Homo sapiens: one gene and its partners. The protein of the gene in region 3 interacts with the protein of the main gene of each other region in a biochemical or structural test. Each region holds a gene or a part of one and is shown on either strand. Other genes may lie near its edges.

Region 1 (4,223 bases), on a different chromosome or scaffold from region 3:
CATTTCATACAGGTGGGTGACACAAGCCAGGAAACAATCTCAGCAAGCTGGGTGGGACCGTCCACCGCCAGCAGCATGTGTTGGGGCCAGGCAGGCAAGTGGCAGTGTCCACTCCAGCGTTCTTTCCTGTTCTGTGGGCTCCCCACACACCAGGCCGTGGCCCCAGAGACTGTGCTTGCAACACTGGATTCCTGGCTTTTGAAGAAGGATCTGACCTGGAGGGCTTGGCCTGTGCAACTGCATCGGACTTATCTAGAATCTGAGGAGCCCCAGCTCACTCTGGCCTTCATTAAATAAACACTCAGTGGGAGAAGCAGCACGTGAAATGTCCGTGGAGGTCCCTGACCAGGGATGGGCTGCTGCTGCCTGAAATTGGGTTGTGATGGGGTGTAGTGGGTCAGCGTGTCTGGTTGTCCGGGGATAGCTTTTCTCTGTGTGGTGGTCCAGTTTGGATGGAAAAGGGTAGAAGGAGCTGAGACTTAACGTTTGCTGCCTGTGTGCCTAGCAGCGTGCCTGACTCTTCTCAAACTCACACACGTTCCTGGAGATCAGCAGTTTTCATCATACACATTTTCCCTCTCTAAATATAAAGGGAGGGAGGCACAATTTGAAACCAGGGTATTAATCTGTAAACAGAAGTTGTGAGGCTACTTCATCCTGGCAGGAGCTGGTGTTCTGTCTCCGCTAGACCCTCCTAGGGGTCTGAAAACTCCACCGAGGCAAACGGGAATGTTCTTATGCCCCAGTGTACTCACAGAGGGACACTTGGCCTGCCTAATAGCTGGGCCTGCAACCTATGCCAGTAATAATTACCTTCATTCCTTTGAATCTGCCCAGCGCTGGGGAGACAAGGGTGTGTAGAAGCAGACACATGTTGCCTCATGGAGATTTATGTTCCAGGGACATTGTGACTTGCCCTTTCCTGCCAGCCTACTAGTACTTTCCAGAGACAGGCTCTGCCATGCTGAGTCTCCCCACCTTGTGTTCTTGTGGAGAAAAATCCCTCCTAAGCAAGCTGGCGTGGAGAAAGGGGCTGAAGGACTTTGACCATCAGGCTTTGCTGGGGGAGGTGATGTTGGCAACTGTGGTAGGTGCAGAGTCAGGCTGTGCTGGGAGGCGATGTTGGGAACTGTGGTAGGTACAGTCTCTGCCCTTGGGCTGCTTTCCTGAGCAGTTGCCCTGGAGCCGCAGGGGGTCAGAGGGGAGGCCCTCCTGCCATCTGGAAGGTCAGAGAGGCCTGGCCCTCACACAGCTCTGCCGTGGCAGAGGTCAGAGTCCCACCGTGTGGGGGACCTGAGCTCTCCCTATGCCTCCCAGGAGCATCTGATGATGGAACTGCTGGGAGAGGGGAGGGGTGGCATTCCTGCAGATTGGGTCCTTAGGGTGTGTTGAGGCACGTTCCCTGGACAGACCTTTAGTTACTGTTGATGTGCTTACCTGGCTGGCAGCCACCTAGCAAGGGCTCTGAAGTAGGTGGGCTGTTCTCCCAGTCTTTGGGGTCTAGGGACAGTTCTAGTCTAGTGAAGGAGCCAGGCAGGGCACAGTAATGACTTTAGTAGCACAGCTTGCAGGACCCTGCATTGGGAACCCCACTGAACCCTTGGCCCATCCAACCTCCTGGTTTTTTTGTTTTGTTTTGTTTTTTGTTTTTGTTTTTGTTTTTCTTTTAGTCAGAGTCCCACTCTGTCGCCCAGGCTGGAGTACAGTGGCATGATCTCGGATCACTGCAATCTCAGCCTCCCAGGTTCAAGCAATTCTCCTGCCTTAGCTTCTGAGTAGCTGGGATTACAGGCATGCCCCACTATGTCCAGCTAATTTTCGTGTTTTTAGTAGAGATAGGGTTTTGCCGTGTTGGCCAGGCTGGTCTCGAACTCCTGGCCTCAAGTGATCTACCCACCTTGGCCTCCCAAAGTGCTGGGATTACAAGTGTGAGCCACCTCCTGGTTTTCTGGGAAATATTCCCAGAGTCTTGGGGACTTCTCCCAAGTCACAGGTCCCTGGCAGAACTGAGACTGAAACCTGGTTTTGCTTTCCCACCCAGCCACTGTCTCAAAGTGTGGCGTTTCTCTGCTTCTGCTCTGTGGCCACAGTTGTAACCCTCTGGCCAAGTGGCTCCAGCCGTCTCTGAAGAGATACAGAGCTGGGGCTCTGGCCCTTTTTTGTGTCCACTTTCACCCGGGTAACTTTTTCCCTGGTGAAACCTACCTCCCAAATGTTTCTTAGAGGCAGCCTGGAGGGAGACCCGCAGTGGCTGTGAGCCTGGGGAGGGCTGGGTGGTGCTGGAGAGAGGTCTTATCAGATCTGGAGGTGTGGTTTGCTGCCTGCAGCTATGGGAATGCCTTCTTCCACGTCAGGGTTGTTTCCTCTTCTTGGAGTGGTCTGGGCTGCCTCAAAATCCAGGAAAGTGCGCCGCAGGTATTCTACTCCTGCCCGCTGGGTGTGTCTGGAGATGGACCATGCGGAGACGCTGGCCCACGGTGGCAGTGTCTGCAATGCCGGGGAGAAGCAGCAAAGCCTGTGGCCAAGTCTCTCTAAGCTATGCCTTTTTAAAAGGCCATCCTTTCAGAAGAGGCTGGTTGAGATCTCTTTTTTATGTTTAATTCAAAGGGAAAGCTGCATAGGTGCCTTTGGGGTTAGGGGAATGATCTTGGAGTAGAGAGGGCAGACACAGATGAAGAACGTGCTTGATCACCTGTTCTATGTTGAGCACTCCACTAGGCTCTCGGCATATGTTGCACCTTAACATTCACAATGATGCTATGAGGCCTTATCCTGATGTTGCAGATGAGGGAATTGCAGCTCAGAGGGATGGAGAGACTGTCTTAGCAGGTGGTTGAACCCAGGTTGACTGGTCTTGAGAACTTATGTTCAGAACTCCACAGCTGTTGCTGTGGCGGGGAGATTCTGTGCAGGGCCATGGTTGCTGAGACCAAGGAAATGGCCAATAATAAAAAGGGCTGGGCCGAGGGCATTCCGTGGCTCAACTCTAGATGTTTGGGCTTCCTGGTGGCCACCCAGGCTGTGCAGCCTCAGGGTTCGGGCATGGGTCTGCTTCCCTAATGTCCAGGCTAGCACATCCTCAAAGACAGGACTCTCAGCACCATGATGCAGCCCGCTCTACGCTTGTCTCATTCTGAGAAAGGAGAAGCTGCCTAGAGATCAGTTTACTCATAATTTTTTAAATGGCTACCTGTCTTATTCTTTCTGAACAGTTCCTCTGATAAACAGTGTATTCTTTAACTTTCTACTTTTAATTAAAATATTTACAAAATACATAATGATATATGTTCACTATAAAAAAGAAAGTACTAGATGTACAACAGTGAAAATCACCCATAATGCCACCTCTCAGAGTTAATTCCAGTGCACATTTTGTTGTATATTCTTCCTGCATTTGCATATAAATGTACATGTGTATATTTGTGGCACATACCATGTGCATTGCCTTGTAAATGTCTTCTGTCTGTATCAGCACATATACATATGCATCAGCACTATTAGTGGCTGCATTGTGTGGTCATACCACAAATTCATCTAACCGGTTTCCCTGTGTGGGCCATTCAGGCTGTTTCCAAGTCTTGCTTTTATAAATGGTGCTGCAACGAGTATCTTCCTACAAGTGAGATTTGCTGGGTCAAAGTATATGAATACATTTAATATCTGTCCTCGTCTTTAATATCTTTATGGCATCATAACTCCCCCTCTCCTAAGCAGGAATGGCAGCCTTCATACATTTATCCATTTGCCACTGCATCTGTAATCACACTGACGGCCAAGAGTTTAAAAGGAGGCTGGGCCTGGGTGCGGTGGCTCATGCCTGTAATCCCAGCACCTTGAGAGGCTGAGGCTGGTGGATAGCTTGAGTCTAGGAGTTCGAAACCAGCCTGGGCAACATGGTAAACCCCGTCTCTACAAGAAATAGAAAATTAGCCATGCATGGTGGCACGCTCCTGTAGTTCTAGCTACTCAGGAGGCTGAGGTGGAGGTTGCAGTGACCTGAGATTGCATCATTGCACTCCAGCCTGGATGACAGAGAAAAAAAAAAAAAAAAAGAGGCTGGACATGGTCCTCTGGCTGAGATTCTGGGATAAGTGTCAGGAACTATGGCTTCTAGTTTTGTGGTTGCTTGTGTCTGAGGTTCTGGGCTATGTGTCAGGCATTGTGGCTTCTAGTTTTTGTGGTTACCTGCAGCAAAGGGGGGCCCCCTGGGCTGACCAATTAGA
Region 2 (4,223 bases), on a different chromosome or scaffold from region 3:
CAAAGTGCTGGGATTATAGGCATGAGCCACTACTCCTGGCCCATTATGTCCTTTCTTGTAGATAAACCAGTTGTTATCGTTTTGCCACATTTGCTTTCTCTTGTTCTCTCTATGGATTGCTTGGTTGGTTGATGAGCTATTTGGAAGTAAATTGCAGACATCCTGACATTTCATCTCTAAATACTTTTAGCGTTAGTCTCTTTGAGGTTAGGATGGTTTCATGTCATTCCAACACTGTTTTACACCTAAAGCAAATTTATTTTTATATAATTTTCTTACACTTTTCATAAAAGAGCTCTAAAACTGTGTACAGGTCAGAGATTGTTTCTAGCAGCATATACTGCTAGTGCGTGGTTAAGATTTAGATCTTTAAAGTATAATGTTAGCTTTCTTGTTATATAATAATACTTCTATGCCTACTTACGGGTAAATATGAGTAAAAGTTTTGCCAATGTCAGTAGGAATTTTTTTATGAGATCAGTTTTCACAATGTGTTAATTATTAAGCACTCCCACTACACAGTCACTATCACAGGCCCTTGGAATTTGCTTATTGAATTTGTTTACAGTATTCCTATGAAGCATGAAAGAGATTAGTCAAGTGGATAACAGGGTGGCAGTGATCTCTTAGTCCATTTAGTGTTGCTTTAACAGAATACCTGAGACTGGGTAATTTATAAAGAAAAAAAGGTTTATTTGGTTCATGATTCTTGTGGCTGGAAAAGTCAAGGTTAGGCCTCTGGTGAGGGCCTCAGGCTGTTTCCACTCATGGTGGAAGGCAAAAGGGAGCCAGTGTGTGCAGAGATCACATGGTGAGAGAGGAAGCAAGGGCTGGGGGAGGTGCCAGGCTCTTTTAACAACCAGCTGTCTTTGGAACTAATACAGTCAGAAACTTACCCCTGAGGGAGGGCTTTAATCTATTCATGAGGGATCCACCCCTGTGATCCCAACACCTCCCATTTGACCCCACCTCCAACACTGGGGATCAAATTACAACATGAGGTTTGGAGGGGACAAATATCACAACCATACCAGGTGATGATGGTGGTGGTTGTGGTGGTGGTGGTTGTTGGATATAGACTAAGCCCTCTACCTTTTAAAAATTATTTTGTGAAAAAGAAAAAGGTTTTTCTTGTGACTTTGAATGACATTTGTTGTTTTTAAAGCTATAAACCTGCTTGACGTCTTGCACATCAGACTACTTGTTGGATCTCAGATTGCAGCAGAGATGCGGGAAGCCATGTATAATCAGTTGGGGCTCACTGGCTGTGCTGGAGTGGCTTCTAATAAACTGTTGGCAAAATTAGTTTCTGGTGTCTTTAAACCAAATCAACAAACAGTCTTATTACCTGAAAGTTGTCAACATCTTATTCATAGTTTGAATCACATAAAGGAAATACCTGGTAAGACAAATATATTTGAAAAGTACATATACGTCTTATTTTATTTCTTTTAATTTAAAAAATTATAGATACAATGTAATTAATTCTTAGGTAGAGTTGTCTGTGAGTTTGTGTGCATGTGTGTGTGTGTGTATACTTGGTTCCTGGAAAAAACTAAGAAAAACTGTAATGTTTTCTCAAGCAAATTTGGATTAAGAAATATGTGAAGGTACTTTTCTTATTTTATCTACTTTTGTATGGTTAGAATATGGTCATGAAAGTTATAGCCTAGAAACATATGGTCCTTTATTTCCAGTCCCTGGGTCATACTCTTATACTGTACATTGCCTCTAGAGAGGGGAGTTCGTCTTTTACTAACTCTTTTGGGATTACATATAAAATATTAAGGCTACAATGGACTTTCCAAAACATCTAGGCCAAGGTCCTCATTTTAAAGATTAGGAAACTGATTTCCATGAGGAGTTCGGTGACCTATTTAGGTCATGGGGCAAGTTTGTATCTTTGAAGATTAAATACCCAAGTTTTTATAGGCCATCAATATGTTGAACTACATTTCTGTGGTATTGCTAGGGAATAAGATGTTATAAAAGAGTTCTGTGGAAGTGAATTTCTAATACCACTGAAACTTAGATGTCATACTTCACATTTTTAACTGATACTTGCGTGATTCCAAAATGTATTATACACTGCCTTGCCTTCCTTAGTATAGTATAACTATAATTTGAAGTTTTTTGGATGACTTTGGTAGTGCATTCTGAAGAACAATGTCAGGTTGTAATAAACTGAGGACTATATACTGGTGCAAAACATTCTTACTTGGCTTTACTTTCGAGTTCTTGTATCTTTTTTTTTTTTTTTTAACAGGCTTTCTCCTTTCTCACTTATTGCCAAATTGCCAACCTTCTTTTTTTTCTGCTGTGAAAAATCTGTCACTCTACTTTAATAGTTCCCCCTACATAGCCATCTCCTCCAACTTACTGCTTTTACTGTGCAAGAAAACCAGATAACTGTGGAATTACTGTTTTTGAATGAAAAGAATAAGGAGACATTAAATAGCCTGTTTTCTCTTGTGAATAAAGTATGACCGAATTTTAGTGCAAGAACTTTGTGACAGTTTTGCTAGCAAGATTTTTTGTTTGTTTGCTTTCTGGCTCATAGTTGTATTCTGGATGGTAAATGTTAGATATGACTTATGGATAAATGTGTGGTGGTGCGTATAGGAATCAGTTAGGTTACCTAATATGTACACTTAATTTATTTTAATTGCTCTAGTGGCAGCCTTTTTGTATATTAATAATAATCATGATTTCTGAATATTTCTGGAATATTACATAACAGGTGGTAAAATTTTTGTTTTAGTAAGACAGCATTTATTGGCTGTCTCTGTATTCATTTTATTTTACTGCATTTTGTGAGGACTTCAAAGAGGTGCATATAATTCAGGAGCCCTGAGTGGAAGAACAGCAACCTAGTTTGCAATGGGGTTTGATCTTTGCAAAATACAGTAGTCCCCCATTATCTGCAGTTTCACTTTTCACAGTTTCTATTACCTGCAGTCAACTGTGGTCTGAAAATAATAAGATATTTTGAGAGAGAGAGGCAGAGACCACATTCACATAACTTGTATATTGTATATTGTTATAGTTCTGTTTTATTATTATTGTTAATCTCTTACTGTGCCTAATTTATAAATTAAACTTTATCATAGGTATATATGTAATGGGAAAAACAGTACTGTATATATAGGGTTTGATACTGTCCATGGTTTCAGGCATCCACTGAAGGTCTTAGAATGTATCCCCTGTGGATAAGGGGGGACTACTGTATAAATTATAGAACTTAAAGATAAGATTGATATATTTATAATATTTTAATTAGCTTTGTTTTAAGGAGAAAAGCTATTTTAACATTGTATGCATTTCTTTTTATTTAGGTATTGGCTATAAAACTGCCAAATGTCTTGAAGCACTGGGTATCAATAGTGTGCGTGATCTCCAAACCTTTTCACCCAAAATTTTAGAAAAAGAATTAGGAATTTCAGTTGCTCAGCGTATCCAAAAGCTCAGTTTTGGAGAGGATAACTCCCCTGTGATACTCTCAGGACCACCTCAGGTACATGATGATACTTATTTTAATTAAGTACTGGTTATCACATTATTTGAGATAAAGATTTCTAGTTTTAGTACCATGTTCTTACTATTCTAGTTTGCTTAGTATGTGATCCCTTTCCTATTAGAAGGCTGATTTATTATTAATAGATTGGATTAATAAGTATTCTTAAATGGAATCTTAAGCATTGATATTTTGATATCTTAAGTTAGCTACTATGATTGAAGACAGTGCAACTTAATTTTAATAGCCTATAATGCATATATGAGGCAAAATATTTTAATCTGTTAAAAATCTTGTTTTCAGAGTAGTCCAGTGATTTAGCAAATGGGAAAGGTATAATCACCCAGTTAACATTGACTGATTTTTTTGCTATGGGACAAGCACTTTACTGAGTGCTTTAAATATGTTAGTCCATTTAATCTTCACAACAAAGCATCAAGGTAGGTAGTACTGTTGTTTGTCCATTCCTTCTTACTTCTCTTCTTTCCTTCCTTCCTTCCATTCTCTCTCTCTCAAGATGAGGATACCGTACTTTAGAAAGGTTAAATAACTTGTCCAAGGATAAACTTAGATTCAAGTCCTAGGTGATTAAGAACTCTTGCCATAATCATACAATAAAGCTTGGAGTTGGTACTAGAGCTTTAGAGTTTTCATAACTTTGAATTATTTTATATTAACTGTTTTATATTAACTGTTAATACAGTAATAT
Region 3 (4,922 bases):
TGAGGGCAGGGACACTGAAAACAAGCAGAGAAAGCAGAAAGCCACAGATCTTTCCTTCTGCCCTCTCCCGACTCAGCTCCCTGGAACATGGGCATTCCGTGCTTGCCTAGGCCAAGTGATAAGACTAAATATATTGGTATCAAGAGCACCACAAAGAAATAACAGTGTGTCCCACTGTTGTATTCAAGATCCATCCAAATGCACAAAACTTCCAATCAGCCTTAAACAAACAGAAAAATAAGCAAGACTCAAAATAGCATTCTCTCTCTCCAAATCGGAGTGTCAGATGCTATATAAGACAGAAAACAAAATTCTGAGGAAAAAGGGCATTCAGTCTAGAATTCTATATGCAGCCAAAATATCAATCAAGTATGAGAACAGAATAAAGATGTTTGCAGATATGAAAGGATTTTAAAAATTTACCTCTGAGCAACTTTCTCAGAAAATCACTGGAGGAACTGCTGCAATGAAACCTGGGAGTGAACCAAGGGGAAGAAAATGGATCGAACAGGAAAGGCAAAGGGAATCCCTAGGATATGGGTGAAGGGAGATCTCAGGATGACAACTATGCAGCAGAACAGACAGACAGAACACAAGGCCAGCCTGACAGAGATGAAAGTGACTGAATGCCTGATGAATCTGGCCACAGAGGAAATTGAGAAAGTGAAGTCATAAAAATCTAAGTAAACAAACAAAAAAACCAAGACACAACTTGAATGATGTTATTCTCTTTTGATTTAAAAAAAAAAAAACCATGAGGCACAGCCGAGTGAATTTGTCCACAGTTAAATCTCAAGACTAGTTTCAAATTCCAGTCTATAACTCTAAATTCTAATTTCTCCTTTTATATGTTGTTCCTTCTTTTTTGCTCCATCTTATGAGGTCCATTCTACCTCTTCAGAATCTTTATCTCGATCAGTCTTAGACTCTCATTTTTGTCTTCCACTTTCAAGCCCAGACTCTTTCCATCACACATCCCTTCAGGAAAGTAGTGTAAGATTGTGGCCAGGCGCTGTGGCTCATGCCTATAATCCTAGCACTTTGGGAGGCCGAGGCAGGTGGATCACTTGAGGTCAGGAGTTCAAGACCAGCCTGGCCATGGTGAAACCCCGTTTCTACTAAAAATACAAAAATTAGCCAGGCGTGGTGGCGGGTGCCTGTAATCCCAGCTACTCGGGAGGCTGAGGCAGGACAATCACTTGAACCCAGGAGGCAGAGGTTGCAGTGAGCCAAGATCATGCCACTGCACTCCAGCCTGGGCAACAGAGCAAGACTCCATCACAAAAAAAGAAAAAAGACTAGAGTTATGTAAAATTCTATGAACAAAACCTGTGAATTCAACTTCTCTGATTTTATATTAAATTCTACCAATACAGATTTTTGTGTCAAATGTCCATACACAAACCCCACAATATTTAGGTCCAACAAAAAGCAAATGCCTGTCAACAAGAAATACAGAAAAAACACCTGCTTTGTTTGAGCTTCAACACTGAACTTCAAGGTCCCACATAACCCACAGAAACAATGTCTTATCTAGTGCACACAGAAGTACACAAGACCAACCATAGTTGAGCAGCTTGAGTGGCTAGAGTGTAGTGCTAGCGAACTCTCGGCTGAAGACAAAATTGGATGCCCCTCCCACCTCCAAAAAAAGGCCTTTTCTTTCAAAGCCAACTTCTGCCCTTCCAATTGTTCTGTACAAGCAGGTGCAGACGGGTGAGTACAAATTCCTTATTACTTTTGCAGACCAACTCCAAGCACAACCTTTAACTTCTTGTGTGAGACAGGACATTAAAGCTTCCCAGGTAAGAGATTTATTTTCTCCTTCATGTTTAATTTGAAATTTGAAAATGGATATGAGACAAATGAATTTTCTGCTTTAGTCCTCCCAGTGGTGATCAGAGGGTACTGCATTCCCTGACTCCTTTTTCTTTTTTAACCAAAGCCACAAGTCACGGAATATTCCCTGACTCTTACTAGGAATTTGTTCCAGCCCAGGAAAAAATTCCAGGCATAAAATTTGGCTATATCTTAGAATAATAAAATGCAGGCCGAGCGCAGTGGCTCAAGCCTGTAATCCCAGCACTTTGGGAGGCCAAGGCAGGCGGATAACCCAAGGTGAGGAGTTTGAGACCAGCCTGGCTAACATGGTGAAACCCCATCCCTACTAAAAATACAAAAAATTAGCTGGGCATGGTGGTGTGTGCCTGTAACCCCAGCTACTTAGGCTGGCAGGCGGAGGTTGCAGTGAGCCAAGGTCACGAGATTGCACTCCAGCCTGGCAACAAGAGTGAAACTCTGTCTCAAAAAAAAAAAAAAAGTAATAAAATGCAGAACAATCCTCTTTGCAATCAAATAGTTAATATTAATTTTTATTAGACTGTATAAGCCTCTATGTAATTACAATGTAAATCATGCACCATGTAAGTCTAAATAGTTATACAATGTATATATCATGAGCTACATAACTTAAATGACCAAAATTCTATTTACTGCAAATTTCAACCTTTACCTCATTTACATACATAAGATAAGGATGCTCAAATTGAAGTCTATAAGATCTTTCCCTGAAAACTGACTAAATATTTTCATGAATTCTTCAGAGATCAACTTTTTTTTTTCTTTCTTAAGATACATAGTTTCACCATGTTGTCCAGGTCGACTGGAACTCCTGGCCTCAAGTGATCCTCTGGCCTTAGCCTCCTGAGTAGCTGAAACTATAGGCCAACTTTTTTCTGATAAGGCCCAAACAGCTTGATTCAACAGGTTGTGCTTAGAAGTTGACAAGCTGATTAAGCCGGGGCACAGTGGCTCACGCCTGTAATTCCAGCACTTTGGGAGGCCGAGGAGGGAAGTGGGAGGATCATGAGGTCAGGAGTTCCAGATCAGCCTGCCAACATGGTGAAACCCAGTCTCTACCGAAAATACAAAAAAATCAGCTGGGCATGGTAACAGGCACCTGTAATCCCAGCTACTCGGGAGGCTGAGGCAGAATTGCTTGAAGCCAGGAGGCGGAGGTTGCAGTGAGCCAAGATCATGCCACTGCACTCCAGCCCGGGCAACAAGAGTGAAACTCTGTCTCAAAAAATAAAATAAAATTTAAAAATTAGCTGGGTGTGGTGGCGGCTGCCTGTAATCCTAGCTACCTGGGAGGCTGAGGCAGGAGAATCGCTTGAACCCGGGAGGCGGAGGTTGCAGCGAGCGAGATCGTGCCACTGCACTCCAGCCCAGGTAACAGTGTGAGACTCCGCCTCAGGAAATTTAAAAAAAAAAAAAGCTAATTAAATAAAACCATATTACATATTTTAAATGAGATACTCTACAAAGTATTGCTGGCTGGTATACAGTTAAGTGATCACCAAATGGCAACTATTGTTATTTTCCAGAACCACAATTTTTAATAAACAGTTTTTTTTAAACTCATGGAACCTGAAAACTCAATTAAATGGTCTGGAAATCTTCCTTTGATAGTCACAGTACAATCTAAAAGGAGTATAGTTTAGTTAGCAAGCCTTCACTGCACACTAAGGCAGTGATTTTTTTTTCTTAATAAATAAACATCAGAAATTCCTGCTATAGTGATTCTTAAGAGTGGTCCCCGGACCTGGAGCATCAACATCACCTGGCAACTTGTTAGAAATTCCAATTCTACGGGTAAAATCAAGGTCTAGGGGTAGGGCCCAGTGATCACGGTTCTAAAGCCCTTCAGGTGATTCTAATGTTTGCTTAAGTTTGAGAGTTACAGACTAGTTTCATAAAGCTCAGGCTGCTTTGTCCTGCAAGGAGCAGGAAATCCTAAAGAGCAGGAAAGCTATGTGTCCCAGGTATATGGCCTCTACAGCACCTAGCACAGTATCATACACACGGTAGGCATTCACACTTGCTGAATAGGTTAATTCAGTCTCACATAACCGATGACTGACTAGACAACAGCATCATCAGTTTCACAGAGGTCAGAAATTTGGGGGACTATTTGCATTAACTAATAATAAGTACATGATGCACACATATCAGTAACTGTTAAATAACTGGGAAAGCCCTGGGCCTCTGGTACTTTGGCCAATAACATTACCAGGCTTACGAAGTGTCATATCCTTTGAAATTCAGGTGAAAAATATGTTTCTCATTTTGCCAGTATAGAAAAAGGATGTATCCGTGGCTCCATATAACTATAGAACATAAACTGAAATGCAAACTGTTTGGTTGCCTTTAAAAAGCATATTTTGACCAGGTACAGTGGCTCACGCCTGTAATCCCAGCACTTTGGGAGGCCAAGGCGGGCGGATCACCTGAGGTCAGGAGTTTGAGAACAGCCTGGCCAACATGGCGAAACCCCATCTCTACTAAAAAAAAAAAAAAAAAAAAAAAAAAAATAGCCAGGCATGGTGGCGGGAGCCTGTAATCCCAGCTACTCGGGAGGCTGCGCACGACAATCGCTTGAACCCGGGCGGCAGAGGTTGGCAGTGAGCCGAGATTGCACCACTGCACTCCAACCTGGGCGACAGAGCAAGACTCCATCTCAATTAAAAAAAAAAAAAAAGCATATTTGACATATCAGCCAACTATAATGTATGAATTCAAGCTGGATTCTAATTTGAACAGTTTAAAAATTAGAAATGTGAGAAAATTTAAATACTGCATATTTGATATTAAGAAAATATGATAAAAGTATTGCTTTTTTCTTAAAACAGGCTTTATCTCTTCTAAAAGCTTTAGAGAGGAAATGATACTGCATTTGCTTCTTCATTTATAAATGAAATAAGATTGGCCACTGAGCTGCGCTGTTGAGTACATGGGGGGCTAAGTACATACCAGGGTTTCTCAACGCTGGCACTACTGACATTTTAGGCCGGGTAATTCTTTGCTGTGGAAGGCTGTCCTACGTACTGTAAAATGTTTAGTAGCATTCCTGGTCAGCCAAA

The links.
Region 1: of the proteins of MARK3 (region 3) and KSR1, one has a biochemical effect on the other in vitro, tested with the Homo sapiens proteins (2 studies listed by BioGRID).
Region 2: the proteins of MARK3 (region 3) and POLI form a complex in vitro, tested with the Homo sapiens proteins (one large-scale study listed by BioGRID).

The regions. Positions count from the first base shown.
Region 1 is NC_000017.11:27,459,433-27,463,655, forward strand, and holds part of KSR1 (kinase suppressor of Ras 1), read left to right. Parts: intron 1-4,223.
Region 2 is NC_000018.10:54,279,502-54,283,724, forward strand, and holds part of POLI (DNA polymerase iota isoform a (long)), read left to right. Parts: intron 1-1,165; coding exon 1,166-1,402; intron 1,403-3,335; coding exon 3,336-3,514; intron 3,515-4,223. UniProt on the Homo sapiens protein: Error-prone DNA polymerase specifically involved in DNA repair. Plays an important role in translesion synthesis, where the normal high-fidelity DNA polymerases cannot proceed and DNA synthesis stalls. Favors Hoogsteen base-pairing in the active site.
Region 3 is NC_000014.9:103,391,161-103,396,082, reverse strand, and holds part of MARK3 (MAP/microtubule affinity-regulating kinase 3), read right to left. Parts: intron 1-4,922. UniProt on the Homo sapiens protein: Serine/threonine-protein kinase. Involved in the specific phosphorylation of microtubule-associated proteins for MAP2 and MAP4. Phosphorylates the microtubule-associated protein MAPT/TAU. Phosphorylates CDC25C on 'Ser-216'.